Regions from separate parts of the Homo sapiens genome. Here region 2 is linked to region 1. The links come from fine-mapping of genetic effects on gene expression. Tissue or cell type: aorta. Region 1 holds a variant in brackets; the other region holds the start of a gene. All regions are shown on one strand. Distances are between the middles of the regions.

Region 1 (8,110 bases):
CGGCGTTATTTCTGAGGGCTCTGTTCTGTTCCATTGATCTATATCTCTGTTTTGGTACCAGTACCATGCTGTTTCGGTTACTGTAGCCTTGTAGTATAGTTTGAAGTCAGGTAGTGTGATGCCTCCAGCTTTGTTCCTTTGGCTTAGGATTGACTTGGCGATGCGGGCTCTTTTTCGGTTCCATATGAACTTTAAAGTAGTTCTTTCCAATTCTGTGAAGAAAGGCACTGGTAGCTTGATGGGGATGGCATTGAATCTGTAAATTACCTTGGGCAGTATGGCCATTTTCACGATATTGATTCTTCCTACCCATGAGCATGGAATGTTCTTCTGTTTGTTTGTATCCTCTTTTATTTTCTTGAGCAGTGGTTTGTAGTTCTCCTTGAAGAGGTCCTTCACATCCCTTGTGAGTTGGATTCCTAGGTATTTTATTCTCTTTGAAGCAATTGTGAATGGGAGTTCACTCATGATTTGGCTCTCTGTCTGTTGTTGGTGTATAAGAATGCTTGTGATTTTTGTACATTGATTTTGTATCCTGAGACTTTGCTGAAGTTGCTTATCAGCTTAAGGAGATTTTGGGCTGAGACGATGGGGTTTTCTAGATATACAATCATGTCATCTGCAAACAGGGACAATTTGATTTCCTCTTTTCCTAATTGAATACCCTTTATTTCCTTCTCCTGCCTAATTGCCCTGGCCAGAACTTCCAACACTATGTTGAATAGGAGTGGTGAGAGAGGGCATCCCTTTCTTGTGCCAGTTTTCAAAGGGAATGCTTCCAGTTTTTGCCCATTCAGTATGATATTGGCTGTGGGTTTGTCATAGATAGCTCTTATTATTTTGAAATACGTCCCATCGATACCTAATTTATTGAGAGTTTTTAGCATGAAGGGTTGTTGAATGTTGTCGAAGGCTTTTTCTGCATCTATTGAGATAATCATGTGGTTTTTGTCTTTGGCTCTGTTTATATGCTGGATTACATTTATTGATTTGCGTATATTGAACAAGCCTTGCATCCCAGGGATGAAGCCCACTTGATCATGGTGGATAAGCTTTTTGATGTGCTGCTGGATTCGTTGTGCCAGTATTTTATTGAGGATTTTTGCATCAATGTTCATCAAGGATATTGGTCTAAAATTCTCTTTTTTGGTTGTGTGTCTGCCAGGCTTTGGTAACAGAATGATGCTGACCTCATAAAATGAGTTAGGGAGGATTCCCTCTTTTTTTATTGATTGGAATAGTTTCAGAAGGAATGGTACCAGTTCCTCCTTCTACCTCTGGTAGAATTCGGCTGTGAATCCATCTGGTCCTGGACTCTTTTTGGTTGGTAAGCTATTGATTATTGCCACAATTTCAGATCCTGTTATTGGTCTATTCAGAGATTCAATTTCTTCCGGGTTTAGTCTTGGGAGGGTGTATGTGTCGAGGAATTTCTCCACTTCTTCTAGATTTTCTAGTTTATTTGCATAGAGGTGTTTGTAGTATTCTCTGATGGTAGTTTGTATTTCTGTGGGATTGGTGGTGATATCCCCTTTATCATTTTTTATTGTGTCTATTTGATTCTTCTCTCTTTTTTCTTTATTAGTCTTGCTAGTGGTCTATCAATTTTGTTGATCCTTTCAAAAAACCAGCTCCTGGATTCATTAATTTTTTGAAGGGTTTTTTGTGTCTCTATTTCCTTCAGTTCTGCTCTGATTTTAGTTATTTCTTGCCTTCTGCTAGCTTTTGAATGTGTTTGTTCTTGCTTTTCTAGTTCTTCTAATTGTGATGTTAGGGTGTCAGTTTTGGATCTTTCCTGCTTTCTCTTGTGGGCATTTAGTGCTATAAATTTCCCTCTACACACTGCTTTGAATGTGTTCCAGAGATTCTGGTATGTTGTGTCTTTGTTCTCGTTGGTTTCAAAGAACATCTTTATTTCTGCCTTCATTTCGTTATGTACCCAGTAGTCATTCAGGAGCAGGTTGTTCAGTTTCCAAGAAGTTGAGCGGTTTTGAGTGAGATTCTTAATCCTGAGTTCTAGTTTGATTGCACTGTGGTCTGAGAGATAAGTTTGTTATAATCTCTGTTCTTTTACATTTGCTGAGGAGAGCTTTACTTCCAACTATGTGGTCAATTTTGGAATAGGTGTGGTGTGGTGCTGAAAAAAATGTATATTCTGTTGATTTGGGGTGGAGAGTTCTGTAGATGTCTATTAGGTCTGCTTGGTGCAGAGCTGAGTTCAATTCCTGGGTATCCTTGTCGACTTTCTGTCTCGTTGATCTGTCTAATGTTGACAGTGGGCTGTTAAAGTCTCCCATTATTAATGTGTGGGAGTCTAAGTCTCTTTGTAGGTCACTCAGGACTTGCTTTATGAATCTGGGTGCTCCTGTATTGGGTGCATATATATTTAGGATAGTTAGCTCTTCTTGTTGAATTGATCCCTTTACCATTATGTAATGGCCTTCTTTGTCTCTTTTGATCTTTGTTGGTTTAAAGTCTGTTTTATCAGAGACTAGGATTGCAACCCCTGCCTTTTTTTGTTTTCCATTTGCTTGGTAGATCTTCCTCCATCCTTTTATTTTGAGCCTATGTGTGTCTCTGCACGTGAGATGGGTTTCCTGAATACAGCACACTGATGGGTCTTGACTCTTTATCCAATTTGCCAGTCTATGTCTTTTAATTGGAGCATTTAGTCCATTTACATTTAAAGTTAATATTGTTATGTGTGAATTTGATCCTGTCATTATGATGTTAGCTGGTTATTTTGCTCGTTAGTTGATGCAGTTTCTTCCTAGTCTCGATGGTCTTTACATTTTGGCATGATTTTGCAGCGGCTGGTACCCGTTGTTCCTTTCCATGTTTAGCGCTTCCTTCAGGAGCTCTTTTAGGGCAGGCCTGGTGGTGACAAAATCTCTCAGCATTTGCTTTTCTGTAAAGGATTTTATTTCTCCTTCACTTATGAAGCTTACTTTGGCTGGATATGAAATTCTGGGTTGAAAATTCTTTTCTTAAAGAATGTTGAATATTGGCCCCCACTCTCTTCTGGCTTGTAGGGTTTCTGCCAAGAGATCTGCTGTTAGTCTGATGGTCTTCCCTTTGAGGGTAACCCGACCTCTCTCTCTGGCTGCTCTTAACGTTTTTCCCTTCACTTCAACTTTGGTGAATCTGACAATTATGTGTCTTGGAGTTGCTCTTCTTGAGGAGTATCTTTGTGGCGTTCTCTGTATTTCCTGAATCTGAATGTTGGCCTGCCTTGCTAGATTGGGGAAGTTCTCCTGGATAATATCCTGCAGAGTGTTTTCCAACTTGGTTCCATTCTCCCTATCACTTTCAGGTACACCAATCAGACGTAGATTTGGTCTTTTCACATAGTCCCATATTTCTTGGAGGCTTTGCTCATTTCTTTTTATTCTTTTTTCTCTAAACTTCCCATCTCGCTTCATTTCATTCATTTCATCTTCCATTGCTGATACCCTTTCTTCCAGTTGAT[C/G]GCATCGGCTCCTGAGGCTTCTGCATTCTTCACGTAGTTCTCGAGCCTTGGTTTTCAGCTCCATCAGCTCCTTTAAGCACTTCTCTGTATTGGTTATTCTAGTTATACATTCTTCTAAATTTTTTTCAAAGTTTTCAACTTCTTTGCCTTTGGTTTGAATGTCCTCCCGTAGCTCAGAGTAATTTGATTGTCTGAAGCCTTCTTCTCTCAGCTCGTCAAAGTCATTCTCCATCCAGCTTTCTTCCGTTGCTGGTGAGGAACTGCGTTCCTTTGGAGGAGGAGAGGCGCTCTGCTTTTTAGAGTTTCCAGTTTTTCTGTTCTCTTTTTTCCTCATCTTTGTGGTTTTATCTACTTTTGGTCTTTGATGATGATGATGCACAGATGGGTTTTTGGTGTGGATGTCCTTTCTGTTTGTTAGTTTTCCTTCTAACAGACAGGACCCTCAGCTGCAGGTCTGTTGGAATATGCTGCCATGTGAGATGTCAGTGTGCCCCTGCTGGGGGGTGCCTCCCAGTTAGGCTGCTCGGGGGTCAGGGGTCAGGGACCCACTTGAGGAGGCAGTCTGCCCGTTCTCAGATCTCCAGCTGCGTGCTGGGAGAACCACTGCTCTCTTCAAAGCTGTCAGACAGGGACATTTAAGTCTGCTGAGGTTACTGCTGTCTTTTTGTTTGTCTGTGCCCTGCCCCCAGAGGTGGAGCCTACAGAGGCAGGCAGGCCTCCTTGAGCTGTGGTGGGCTCCAGCCAGTTCGAGCTTCCCGGCTGCTTTGTCTACCTAAGCAAGCCTGGGCAATGGCGGGCGCCCCTCCCCCAGCCTCGCTGCCGCCTTGCAGTTTGATCACAGACTGCTGTGCTAGCAATCAGCGAGACTCCGTGGGCGTAGGACCCGCCGAGCCAGGTGTGGGATATAGTCTCGTGGTGCGCCGTTTCTTAAGCCGGTCAGAAAAGCGCAGTATTCGGGTGGGAGTGACCCGATTTTCCAGGTGCGTCCGTCACCCCTTTCTTTGACTCGGAAAGGGAACTCCCTGACCCCTTGCGCTTCCCGAGTGAGGCAATGCCTCGCCCTGCTTCGGCTCGAGCACGGTGCGCGCACCCGCTGGCCTGCGCCCACTGTCTGGCACTCCCTAGTGAGATGAACCCGGTACCTCAGATGGAAATGCAGAAATCACCCGTCTTCTGCGTCGCTCACGCTGGGAGCTGTAGACCGGAGCTGTTCCTATTCGGCCATCTTGGCTCCTCCCTCCAAGTATGTACATTTTTTAATGTCAGAAAAATCTTTCCACAGACTTAAATTATCGGGAAGAAGTTTCTTTTTTCAAGGCAGAGTTGCTTAAAATGGATTGGATGATTTCCAAGATTTTCAAAATAGGTTCTGATCTGGCTTGAGACATTTATACATATTTTTCAAAAACAAGACACTTTTGGGAAAATTAAATAAGATTAGAAGATGAGGCTTTCTGAGCAAGAAATGGGTTTTACAAATTAACTATTAAAAAGCCTACTTACTATAAATTCAATTTAATCCCAGTGAAATCCAAAAAGGTATTTTTTCTTTTTTGGTGGAAACGGAAAAGTTAATTCTGAAATTTACATGCAAATGAAAAGTATCTATAAGAGACGATACTACCCGTCAAAAGAACAATGTTGGACGACTCACACTATCTGACTTTAAGACTATAAAATGATAGTAACCTAAACAATATGGCGTGAGCAGGCAAGGAGATGGTTGGAACAAAATATATGCCATTAATTAATTTTCAACACAACGTAAACAGTCAACAATTTTTCAGTTAATGCTGTTTAATGGAGAAAGAAGTTTCTTTTCAACAAATAGAGCCACAACAACTACACAAATGTGGGGAAAAAATGAACTTTAATTCTTACAGCATATGCAAAAATCAGTTTAGGATAGATTATAGTTTTAGCTATGTGGTTAGGGCTGCAGGTCTCTTAGAATCATTGTGGTACCGTAAAACTATAGAGCTTCTGGAGGAAAATGCAATATTTTTGCAGCTTTAAGTTTGGGTGGATTGCTCAGAGGGGACACAAAAAGCAATAAATATAAAGGAAAGAGTTAAAAATTTGACTTTACCTGAATTAAACTTCCATTGATTGAAAGACTGTAGAAAATGAAAAGTGGTCCGGGCATGGTGGCTTACACCTGTAATCCCAGCACTTTGAGAGACCCAGGGGGTGGATCACTTAAGGTCAGGAGTTTGAGACCTGCCTGGCCAACATGGTAAAACCCCATCTCTACTAAAAATACAAAATATTAGCCAGGTTGCAGTGATCGCCACCTGTAATCCCAGCTACTTGGCAGGCTGAGGCAGGAGAATGGCTTGAACCTGGGTGGTGGAGGTTGTAGTGAGCCGAGATTGTGCCACTGCACTCCAGCCTGGGCAACACAGTGAGACTCCATCTCAGAAAGAAAAAAAAAAAGAGGAAATGAAAAGTGAAGTCACAGATTGGGAGACAAAGTATTTGCAATACATGTATCCGACAAACGATTTATCTCTCCTAAAAATGACATAAAAAACTCCTAAAAATCAATTTAAAAGAAGAAAAATAGCCTAATTTTTAAATGAGCAAAAGACAGATACTTTTCTAAAGGAAGATCCCTAAATGGCCAAGTTCATGAAAAGAAGCTCAACATCAATTGTTATCTGGGAATTGAAATTTGAAGCCCAAATGAGGTACCACTACACACACACAACAATGGCTAAAATTTTAGAATTGACAATGACAATATCCAGCACTGCTGAGGATGTGAAGAAACTGGAATTCTCATACATGTGGTGGAAATTGTAAAACTGTTCAACCACTGTATGGGGTTGAATAGTGTCCCCCAACTTCATGTCTAACTGGAACCTCAGAATGTGACCTTATTTGAAAATGGGATATTTACAGGTGTAATCAAGTTATAATGAGGTCATGCTGGTTTAGAATGGGTCCTAAATCAAATGACTGGTGTCCTTATTAGAGGATGGAAATTGATACACAGAGACACAGAGGAGACATACAGGGAAGAGGCCAAGTGAAGACAGATGAGCTTGAGGCAGAGATTGAAATTATGCTGCCACAAACTAAGGAATGCCAAGGGTTGCCAGCAACCACCAGAAGTTGGAAGGGGCAAGGAAGGATTCTTTCCTAGAGCTGTCAGAGGGAGTGTGGCTCTGAGAACACCTTGATACTGGACTCCTGGACTCCTGAACTCAGAGAATAAATTTCTCTTGTTCTGATCCACCCAGTTTTTGGTATTTTGTTATGGAATTCCTAGGAAAGGAACACCACCACTTTGAAAAATGTTGGCAGTGTCTTGTAATATTAAACACCTACAACTTCCCTATGACCCAGCAATTCCACTCTTAGGTATTCACCTAAATAAAAGAAAGCATATATCCACACAAATACATATATAAGAATGTTTATGGAAGCTTTAGTGATAGTAGTCAAAACTGGAAACATTTTAAGGATTTACGAAGAAAACGAATAAAAAATTATGTTCATATAGTTGAACACTATTCAGCAATAAAAGAATAAAGTACAAATGCACTCTACAGTGTGGATGAACATCAAAAATATATTGGGCAAAAGAAGCCAGACACAAAAAACGCATGTATACTGTGTGAGTCCATTTACATGAAGGTCAAAGTCAGGTAGAAGTGTTCTCAGGTAATAGAAACCAGTGAGGGCAGGGACTGGCCTGAGAGATCATGAGGAAACATTCTCACGCATTGGAAAAGTCATGCGTCTTGATTGTGGCAGTGTTTTACATTAGTGTATACACATTTGTCAAAACTCACTGGATTATTTCCTTAAATGAATACACTTTATTAAATGTAAATTATAACAAAACATAAACCTTGGAGCAAGCCCTCGTATATAATGCTTGCCTCAATCAAAAAGAAAAGAAAACCCCACTTTAAAGACTGAATTAAAAACTTCTATCCCCATTCCCTTTCTTTCTTTCTTTTTTTTTTTTTTTTTTGAGATAGGGTCTCTCTGTCATCCACCCAGGCTAAAGTGCAGTAGCGTGATCATGTCTCACGGCAGCCTCGACCTCCTGGGCTCAAGTGATCCTCCCTGCTCAGACTCTGTAGCAGCTGGGACTACAGGCACAAGCCACCATGCCGGGCTACTCTTTCCATTTTTTAAAACTGCATTAGTTATCTACTTTCTAAACTCACTTTTAATTCTTAACAGGTAAGTGATTATCATGTAACTTATTTTTGTTCTCCAACTTTTCCAATCTGCACTGAACGTAGCAATCGTCTGTAACTGTCTACTTCTTCTGTATATGTTGGCAAAGGCTTAGGTTTCAATTTCCCTAGCTGAGGGGATTATAATGACTTAGGACACCATTTGCTCTCTTGGTTATTTTGCTTAGGAAGGATAGGTACTTGCAGGGGCCAATGAAGGGCAAAGTAAAAATAACTATCCTGAACTACAGATACACAATTTAAACAGCATTCAAAATGTTCTTCTAAAAAAAAAAAAAAAAGGAGTACACAGAATTTGGCCTGTCACAGAACAAAGAAAATACCAGCTTCAGGTGGACAGTACCCCAGTTCCGTTCTGACAGCTTCTTGGCAACTGTTAATATGTATGGAGCTTGAATGGATGGGTAGGAGGGAGGATCGGAGG
Region 2 (8,110 bases), 240 kb before region 1:
AGGTAAGACATAATCCACTGACTCAGTGGTGTTTTCAATAGCTCAATTTTTTCCCCTCTGTTCTTTCTGCCATCATGAAGGGGGAGTATTACCTAAAAGATACTATGCAACTTGAACAAATTCTTTTCACTATTGTTATTGTTTTTCTTGATTTTCTTTTTGGATAACTCACTTATGCCCTCAGAGTATGCATAACAGGGAAGATATTTTGTAAGATAGTTCAAAATGTCATTCTAGCTGGCATAAACTTGAGGCACAGATTCTGGAACAGTTTGGATGTGTTTCTTCCTAAAATTAACCTGGCCCCAATGCTTTCTCCTGGAATTTCCTTATAGAGTTAGAATTTTGTGGGTACAAATGCAAATGAATTCAAGGTCAGAAGGTCATGACCTCCCAATGCCCTTTCTTTCATGCTTAGAGAGATGAGGCCTAATCAGACACACTGGAGATTTCAGAGCCTTTATCTCTCTATAAACAGTTTGTTATATGAAGAGAGACAGATTACTCTGTATGTTCTCAAAAGAGAAATAATTTTTACATTTTTCTCATTCCTGGGATTCTCTCTTAGTCATTCTCTCCCCCTAATGGCTTTCTCCTAGACACATATATATCCATTATCCTAATGTTCTTCTCTTTCTTCTTTATCTTCTTTTTTCAACCTTGACTTCTTTTCAATGGAGAGAAAAAATTAAGGATTATTTAAAATGCTTTTTAACATTGAACAAACTGAAAAAAAATTTATCTGAACTCTTCTTTTAATTGAGACATCTGAGGCAAATTGAAACCATAAAGTCAGTCAGCCAGTAGACAACATAAAAAATCTACAAACTATAATAAACTAAAACTGCACAGTTGTTATATATTAGATATCCCTTAGGTAGAGGGACTGGCAAGCATGCCATCTAGTTTGCATTTAAATGCTGCATTATTAATAAGAGTCACTGCTGGCTAAAGGTGATAAAAATAGCCCATCACCCCACTATTAGGATTACCCCAAATCAGTCCTTGGGAAAGGATTTGGTTCATAGAGTTCTAACCCTGCAGTTCTGTAGTAACATCTCCCAGCATGGGGGTCTCACCTACGTCTTGGCTATCTGCTGTTAAAAAGCAGAATGAAGACTGTGTGCTCAGCAGGCAACTAAAAGAATCCTCTGTTATTTTGGTGGATCAAAAGTTTAATTTCCAGGATCTGTCTTTTCAGCAGCCGTTAAAGGTTTTGAGTAGATAACCCGGGCCTTTCACTAGTTTTAGAGTTGGAGAGGAGCCACAAATGTAAAATAATATCATATACATAGTTTATATTTGTACTGTTCAATTATGATGAACAATAAATAATAAACCAACAATAATAATTTAAACCAATCTCAGAAGTTTCCAGGACTTTTTCCCTTATAAAAGTCCTCTGAATATGACTCAAATTTGAGAAAAACAAATTATTGTGGAGAATGCCTCACTGAGGATATAGGTGGAATGACCCCAGAGCCTGTATTAACATGAAATAGAAAGCATTATTAATCTATTTACGTATGGGGTTTCAAGCCATCCCATAGAGTAGAGCACCTCTACTCTATCTGCTTTACACTTTGTCTTTCTCTGCAAGATTTTATTTCAACTTTAATGTTTTTAACTTTTATTTTAGGTATTTTTTTTTAAACTAGTGCACTATATCCCCGGTGGATTTCTAGAAAATCTTAGGTTTTCTGGATTAGAACAAGTTAAAGAGAATAGAGCAATAGCTATACGGATTAACTTCAAAAGGAGAAGCTTCAGGGTGGAATTATCCCCAAACTCTGGATAATTTTATGCAAGGACTAATCTAAACCAGATGCCTTTTTATCCTCTGATATACTGCTGTTTAAAGAGGGCATGTGGGCTTTGCTTCGCTAAAGGAGACTAGAACAATAGCACCTTTTAAACCAAGGTAAAATTATTTGTTTTAATCTCATTTATCCACAATAAACCAGGGAATTAAATTTCTAAAACTTTCCTCTAATTCAGTTTTATGGGCTCTTTCCCTATGGTTCAATATAAAAAATGCCATTTAAAATTTTAGGACTCAAAGAATTCCTTCAGTAGCTAGTTATGAAATTCTTTTCCTCCTACACTACCCCAGCAGCTAACATTTCATGCACGTACTTCCTTTGTATTTGAGAATGACCAGATTTGAAAACTGACAAGTAGAAGTGCTATTCAAACAGGAGGATCCCTTTGGAATTTCTAAGCAATAAGAAAATCCTTTCCAAATGGGATGCCTTGAGGTGACTCTATGACAAGAACACAAAAGTTATATGGAGAAATTATTCATTCTTGCAGTCGTATATTCATCCTATTTCATATGAGTGCCAACCAAGTGTGAAGTTTTTACTAGGCTCTGAGGATAAAATGGTGACTTAGCCCCTGTTCTCATGGAGTTTATGGTTGAAGAGGGAAGAGACATTGCATAATTACAAAATCAAATGCATATTTACAAAGTAGGAAAAATATTATGAAGCAAAAGCATAGGGTACCATAAGAATGCATCACAATGGGTTTATCGTAGTTTGTGGGAATCATGTAGCATCTATGGCAGTTCCATTCACTGGGACACTGAACAAGATGACCAGGCTTGAGCAGAAGTATCACGGCTGCATTTTTTTTTGCAATCTAGGTTTGAGACAAGCAAACAGGGAAGCCAAATAAACACTTGAATATATGGATAAATCTGAAGGTATAAATGTAAGATTCTGTAGGTACGAGATCATAAGCTAGAAGTGAAAATGTATTTAGAGGTAAGAGTTAAAAGGAAAAGAGGGCCCGTAACTGATTTTTAAGGAATTCCAGCATCTAAAGATTGGGGGAGAGGAGGCAAAGAAGACTGAAGAGTGGCCTGGGGACAGGGGCAGATCTACCTGGAAATTGATGTAGCTTAACGTTCCGGGTCCTTCTCTTGCCTGGGAGCAACCCTAGCAATGTGTTTACATGGGCATTTATTTTTTGAATTTTTCTAAAGAAAGATTTTTTTTTTTTTTTTGGTTAAAGCAGAGCTCCCAATTGTACAAGCTTCAGAGCCCATACATCCGCCCTTGACTAAGCGGAAGAAGCAAAACCAAGAGTGTGATTGCATGGAATTACAAGAGGGGTGGGGTGGGGAGGACTCTAGGAAGAGAGAGGTCAACAGCTGTGAATGTGTTTGAAAGTCCAAGGAATATGAGAAAAAAGTATTTTTATTCAGAATATTAAAAGAAATTCTTTTAAATGTTCTAAATTGGACTTCTGAGTATCCTTTGGTCCTATAATCTAATATCAGAGGGATATTTTGAAAAAGAGTTTCTTATGCAGAAAAAAATTCGTGGGACTTCCAAATTGAGGATAACAGAAAGAAAATCTTAAGTGGCACAAAATAGAAATGAATATCTGTTCTTCCTGGGGCCATGCAACTCTAATAACTTTTCCATGTTTACTGTTTTTGCTTTTTAATTGGATCATCAGACTAAGAATGCACCCTGATGTGCGAAAAGTTACTTAGAAAGTGAGAGGACTGCCCCCACCCTTCTGATTAAAGCGCTTCTCATAAGCATCCTATGCCATTCAGTAAGCTACCCATGCAGAAAGCATCCACAGGGCAGTGCACATAAGGAAAATCTGAGGAGCTAGAAACAGGCTATCAGTTTCCGCAGGTTGACAAAATCGGCAGATAAAAATACAAGACTGCCATTAAATTTGAATTTCCGATAAACAACGAAGAACTTTTTAGCATAAGTACGTCCCAAATATTGCATGGGATATACTTGTACTAAAATTATTCCTTTTTTTTTTTATTTGAAATTCCCATTTAACAGAGCAGCCTATATTTTATCTGACCACCTCACAAGTCCACTACCCACACCCCAGGTCGAGCGGCCCAGGAGCGAGTTTAAAACCCCGCACAGGCCTGCTCGGCCGCGTCCCCTGATTGGCCAAGGCGCGCCCGCCGCCCCGCCGGTCGCAGGCGTCACGGCAGCCCCAGCAGCCTGGGCCCCGCCACCGCCTCCGCGGCAGCCCCGGTCGGCGCAAGTGCGGCGCGCGCTGGGGGAGGGGGCGCGGCGGAGCGCTAGGCTGGCGTCGGGCCACCGCGGGATTAAGTTTCTCAGTCACGCGTGAGTGTCTGTGCGTTTTGATCCGAAGCTCCTCGCCGGGTCGTTACTTCAGAAGAGAAGACAGTGAGCGTGGGCGAGGCGAGGCATCCAGAGGCCCCGGCGACCCCTGCTCCCCAGTCCTCCGCCCCCTCGCGTCGCGGCCCTGGGCGGGCGCCGCGAGCCGGGTAAGCGGCGCTTGAGCCCCGGCCCAGAGGCCGAGGCGCGCCCCCGCGCCCTGCGCGCGCGCCGGCGGGGAAGGTGCGCGGGCGCCCTGGGCTCGGCGCTTGGGGGTGGGGGTGGGGGCGGGGATGGGGGTGGGGGTGGGGGTGGGGGTAGGGGTGGCGGCGGGCCGTGGGGCGGTGGGGCGGTGCGCTTGCCCCACCCCGCGCGGCCCGGCGCTTCGCGGAAGCCGCTGCTGTGGCTTTTTTAAAAGGATGGGGTCTAGAAGTTTCCTTTGCTACTCGCAAGTCTCCACTCCCCCCAGCCCCGCGGTGGATAATCCTAGACCTTTCAGCACCCCCGCCACCCCTTTCTTTTGCTCTCGCTGACTAAGAGGTTTAAAAGTTTTTCCTTTTCCTTGACCCAGAGGGGCACAGTCTTGGTGTCGGGGGGCTGGGGGTGGGGTGTTAGCCTGGGGGCCCGGAGCGCAGACCAGGCCTCCAGGGCGCGGGAGCCTGTTGCTCTCCCCTGCAGGGGCCGCTCCCGGACGCCCCATCCGCCGTTACGTGGTCCCGGGATGTGCGGGTTGCGGTAGAGAGTGGGCAGCAATGCTCCTGGTCCTGCGTTCTCGCCTTAGCCGCGGGGACCCCGAGGCGAGCCGCTAATTGGTACCGGTGCCCCGTCCCTCACCCCTGGCACCGGCGCCCTTTTAACCGCCGCTCCCGTTGGTGGGAGCACGTTGGTCTTGTCTCTCCCTTAGTCTCCTCACCCCCCGCGCTGATGGGCGTCTTTGTCTGCGATTTGGCAGCCCCAGGATGCCGGATGTTACCAGGGAAGCGATGTTTGGGAGACGCTTTGTGTCTTGCGGAGTTGCGCGTTTGTTGGGTGGTGATGGTGTACATTTTTGTTTGCGTTCTTTGCAGAGGCACAAAGGCTGGGCTATTCTTGCCTGCAGTCACATGGAAATCAAGCGGAGACTGCGGGGGAGGAGAAGTGGCCAGGCGCCGGCGGGAGGTAGAGGCCGCTCCGTAGTCACTGGGGGCGAGTGGGGGCCCCTGGAGACCTCTACTGCGCGGTGCGGCTTTTGAGGTGCTCCGCTTGGGAAGACCCCGGCAATGGGCACTGACTGCCTTTTTGCAGTAGGGGCTGCGGTTGGAGGCTAGTGTTTCCTAGGTATCATCAGATAGATAAGAGGACCATGACTTCACCAGCGTAGAAGGAAAACTTCTCCATGTTCCTTGATGTCATAGAGAAGGAATCTGATAAGTGATCAGACTGCCTCGTCCTGCCTTGTAGACAGTTTGATGTAAACATCCCCTTCGTGTTTCCCTAGAAATTCCTGGTTTAGGTTACCCTTTATAGAATAAATAACACCTTATCTGAAAACTAACGAGGAGGAGGTGATGGTTTCGGGCTTGGGAGTTTTACATGTTGAATTTGGGTATGAGTGATTACAATGAACATCTTGTAATGTTGGAACTATCTAAATTTGTATAATGTATGCCTTAGCACCTGATGGAATTTTGGCAAACAATAGTGTTTTAAAAACCTAGCAAAACTTGGCCAGGCGCAATGGCTCACGCTTGTAATCCCAGCACTTTGGGAGACCGAGGTGGGTGGATCACTTAAGGTCAGGAGTTCAAGACCAGGCTGGCCAACATGGTGAAACCCTGTCTCTACTAAAAATACAAACATTAGCGGAGCGTGATGGCTCGCACCTGTAGTCTCAGATACTAGGGAGGCTGGGGCAGGAGAATCGCTTGAACCCGGGAGGCAGCGGTTGCATTGAGCCGAGATCGCGCCACTGCACTCCGGCCTGGGTGACAGAGCGAGACTCTGACTCAATAAATAAGTAAATAAATAAAAAATAAAAATAAAAGCCTAGCAAAACGTTCCTTGACTTGATCTTCTAATACAATACTAAGCTTTGGATGGAGGCACCTGTACCCTTGTGTGCAATGTAGGCAAAACTAGTTTTGGGTACCCCTTGACTCTCCGTTCTTCTTCCCTATCTCATTTGCCAAAACAAACAAACTAATGAAGATTATTCTCAACATATTACTAATAGATTATGGTGTACCTTATTTCTTACATATGTTCCTTTTTTTTTCCTTTGATCCTTTCTGTGTTTATTCTTTTCACTTACCTTCTCTAGTTCTGGTTTTCTTTGTCCCTTTACCACACTCCTTTTTATTGACTAGGCCTGAAGGTTGTGGCTTGGAAAGGGAGGGATCTTTAGTCAATTTTTAGTGTGCTTCAAAGTCCTATCACCTAGACATTGCTCTGCTTGACCCTTAAAGACATCTTTCCTTTTCAGATGCATTTAAATGTACCTAACTGTGAGGAATAGAGGCTGGTCTCAGAGTTTAGTATATTTCTACAAGTTGAAGCTATTCAGAGAGACTCTTGGAAATCCTTGATATGTAACTTTACATGGATTTAGGTCTAGTTGGCCACTTTTAGTTTTTAACTGCTAGGGTGGAGAGATTTTGCTTGACAAATGATCAAGTGAATCCATTGTCTAGAATTGAGATTAAGGGATTTAAAAGCTGGAGAGGAACAATGAATTGCCTGGAAGGTAACTATCCTCACTTAGAGGTAGATTATTTTCTCCAGATTACATCCCAGATCTGACATAGTCTTGTCTCTCTCAGGTTGAGTTGCAGGTTGGCTACATTTTGTATATTTGGAAACGTACAAAGTACTCTGAATTTCATGAAATATTTTGAGGCAAAGTTGGACTGGAATGTCCCCAAATATGGTAGAGCAAATAGCACATCTGCCAGAGAAAGATCCTACACTTTAAAGAGAAGAAGCAGACAACTTCCTGGTGAATTTAGGACTGCTTGATGGTGCGTATGAGTGATGATATATGTCCAAAACAGTTGTATGTACTTTTGAAAATAGATATTTGGCCTAAAGTAGGATTTCATTTGATATTGTTACGTACATTATCAACCCCATATTTATAACAATAAAGGTTTCATTTTTTCTTGTAAATTAGTGTCATGCATAGGAGAGCATTTATATAAGTACAGTTCGGAAATGATATTTAGCATGGTAAAATTGATATACTGTGATTAAATAATTTTAGTGGGATTCCATGTGGGAGAATAAGACTAAGGAGGTAAATAACTACTTCTCGATAAAGGAAACCAGTGGTGAGGAATCCATTGCCTTCCTGTGATACGTTTCCAGAGAAGATCCGAGGTATTCATGTAGTAGGTAGTAATAGATGGATTAGGAAGAATGTTGTATTGGGTTAGGCATTGGGGAGAGTACAGAATAAACATGATTCTGCTCCAGAAGTGTAGGGTCTTAGTTGGAGGAATCTAATGGGAGAAATAACAGAAAGGTTTTACATGTTAAAAATGTTACAGGGATTCTAGGAAAGTAGTGAAGTATAGGGATTAGTTGCTCTTATCATTGAGGTTAGTAAATAAGACACAGAAAGGCTTTGGTCTTGAGATGAGAGGGTGGAAATGAAAGTTTTTTTGATATGAAGTAGAGCTTAAGTCAGTGGTTTTCCCTTGAAAATGGACATGTATAGAAGAGGCTGGGATGTGAGTGGGCAGTGGGTACTGGAGAGCATATTCAATTTGTATATTTCTGGAGTGGAATAGAGGATTTGTGCCCAGGGGAAAAGGTTGGATAGGGAAGAGCAATTAATGGAGAGCAATGAAGTATAGGCTGACTTTTATCTCTTGAAGTTTCCACTTTCCAATAACCCAAGTCACATTTCCTTCTGAGAGTTAACCTCTTCAGTGCAATCTGGGCTTTTTCTAACATGCACCCTAAAACGTTTGTAGCCATTACCTATTACCCAGTTCCAAAGCCACTTCCACATTTTTGGTGTT

Evidence for each region. PIP is the estimated chance that this variant, and not a neighbour inherited with it, causes the effect.
Region 2: it holds the start of MPDZ, and the variant in region 1 is fine-mapped to the expression of MPDZ in aorta (GTEx, PIP 0.99).

Annotation. Positions count from the first base shown.
Region 1 is chr9:13,034,483-13,042,592 of GRCh38, reverse strand. It overlaps the pseudogene LOC100130801. Among named protein-coding and RNA genes, the nearest start is that of SNORD137, 66 kb to the right of the region's middle. RefSeq lists an enhancer at 4,508-5,024. The variant C/G (reference allele first, on the strand shown) is at 3,470.
Region 2 is chr9:13,275,569-13,283,678 of GRCh38, reverse strand. MPDZ (multiple PDZ domain crumbs cell polarity complex component) reads left to right here and starts at 3,987. Exons shown (of 47, transcript NM_001378778.1): 1 at 3,987-4,279. RefSeq lists enhancers at 4,364-5,079, 5,080-5,795, 5,796-6,511.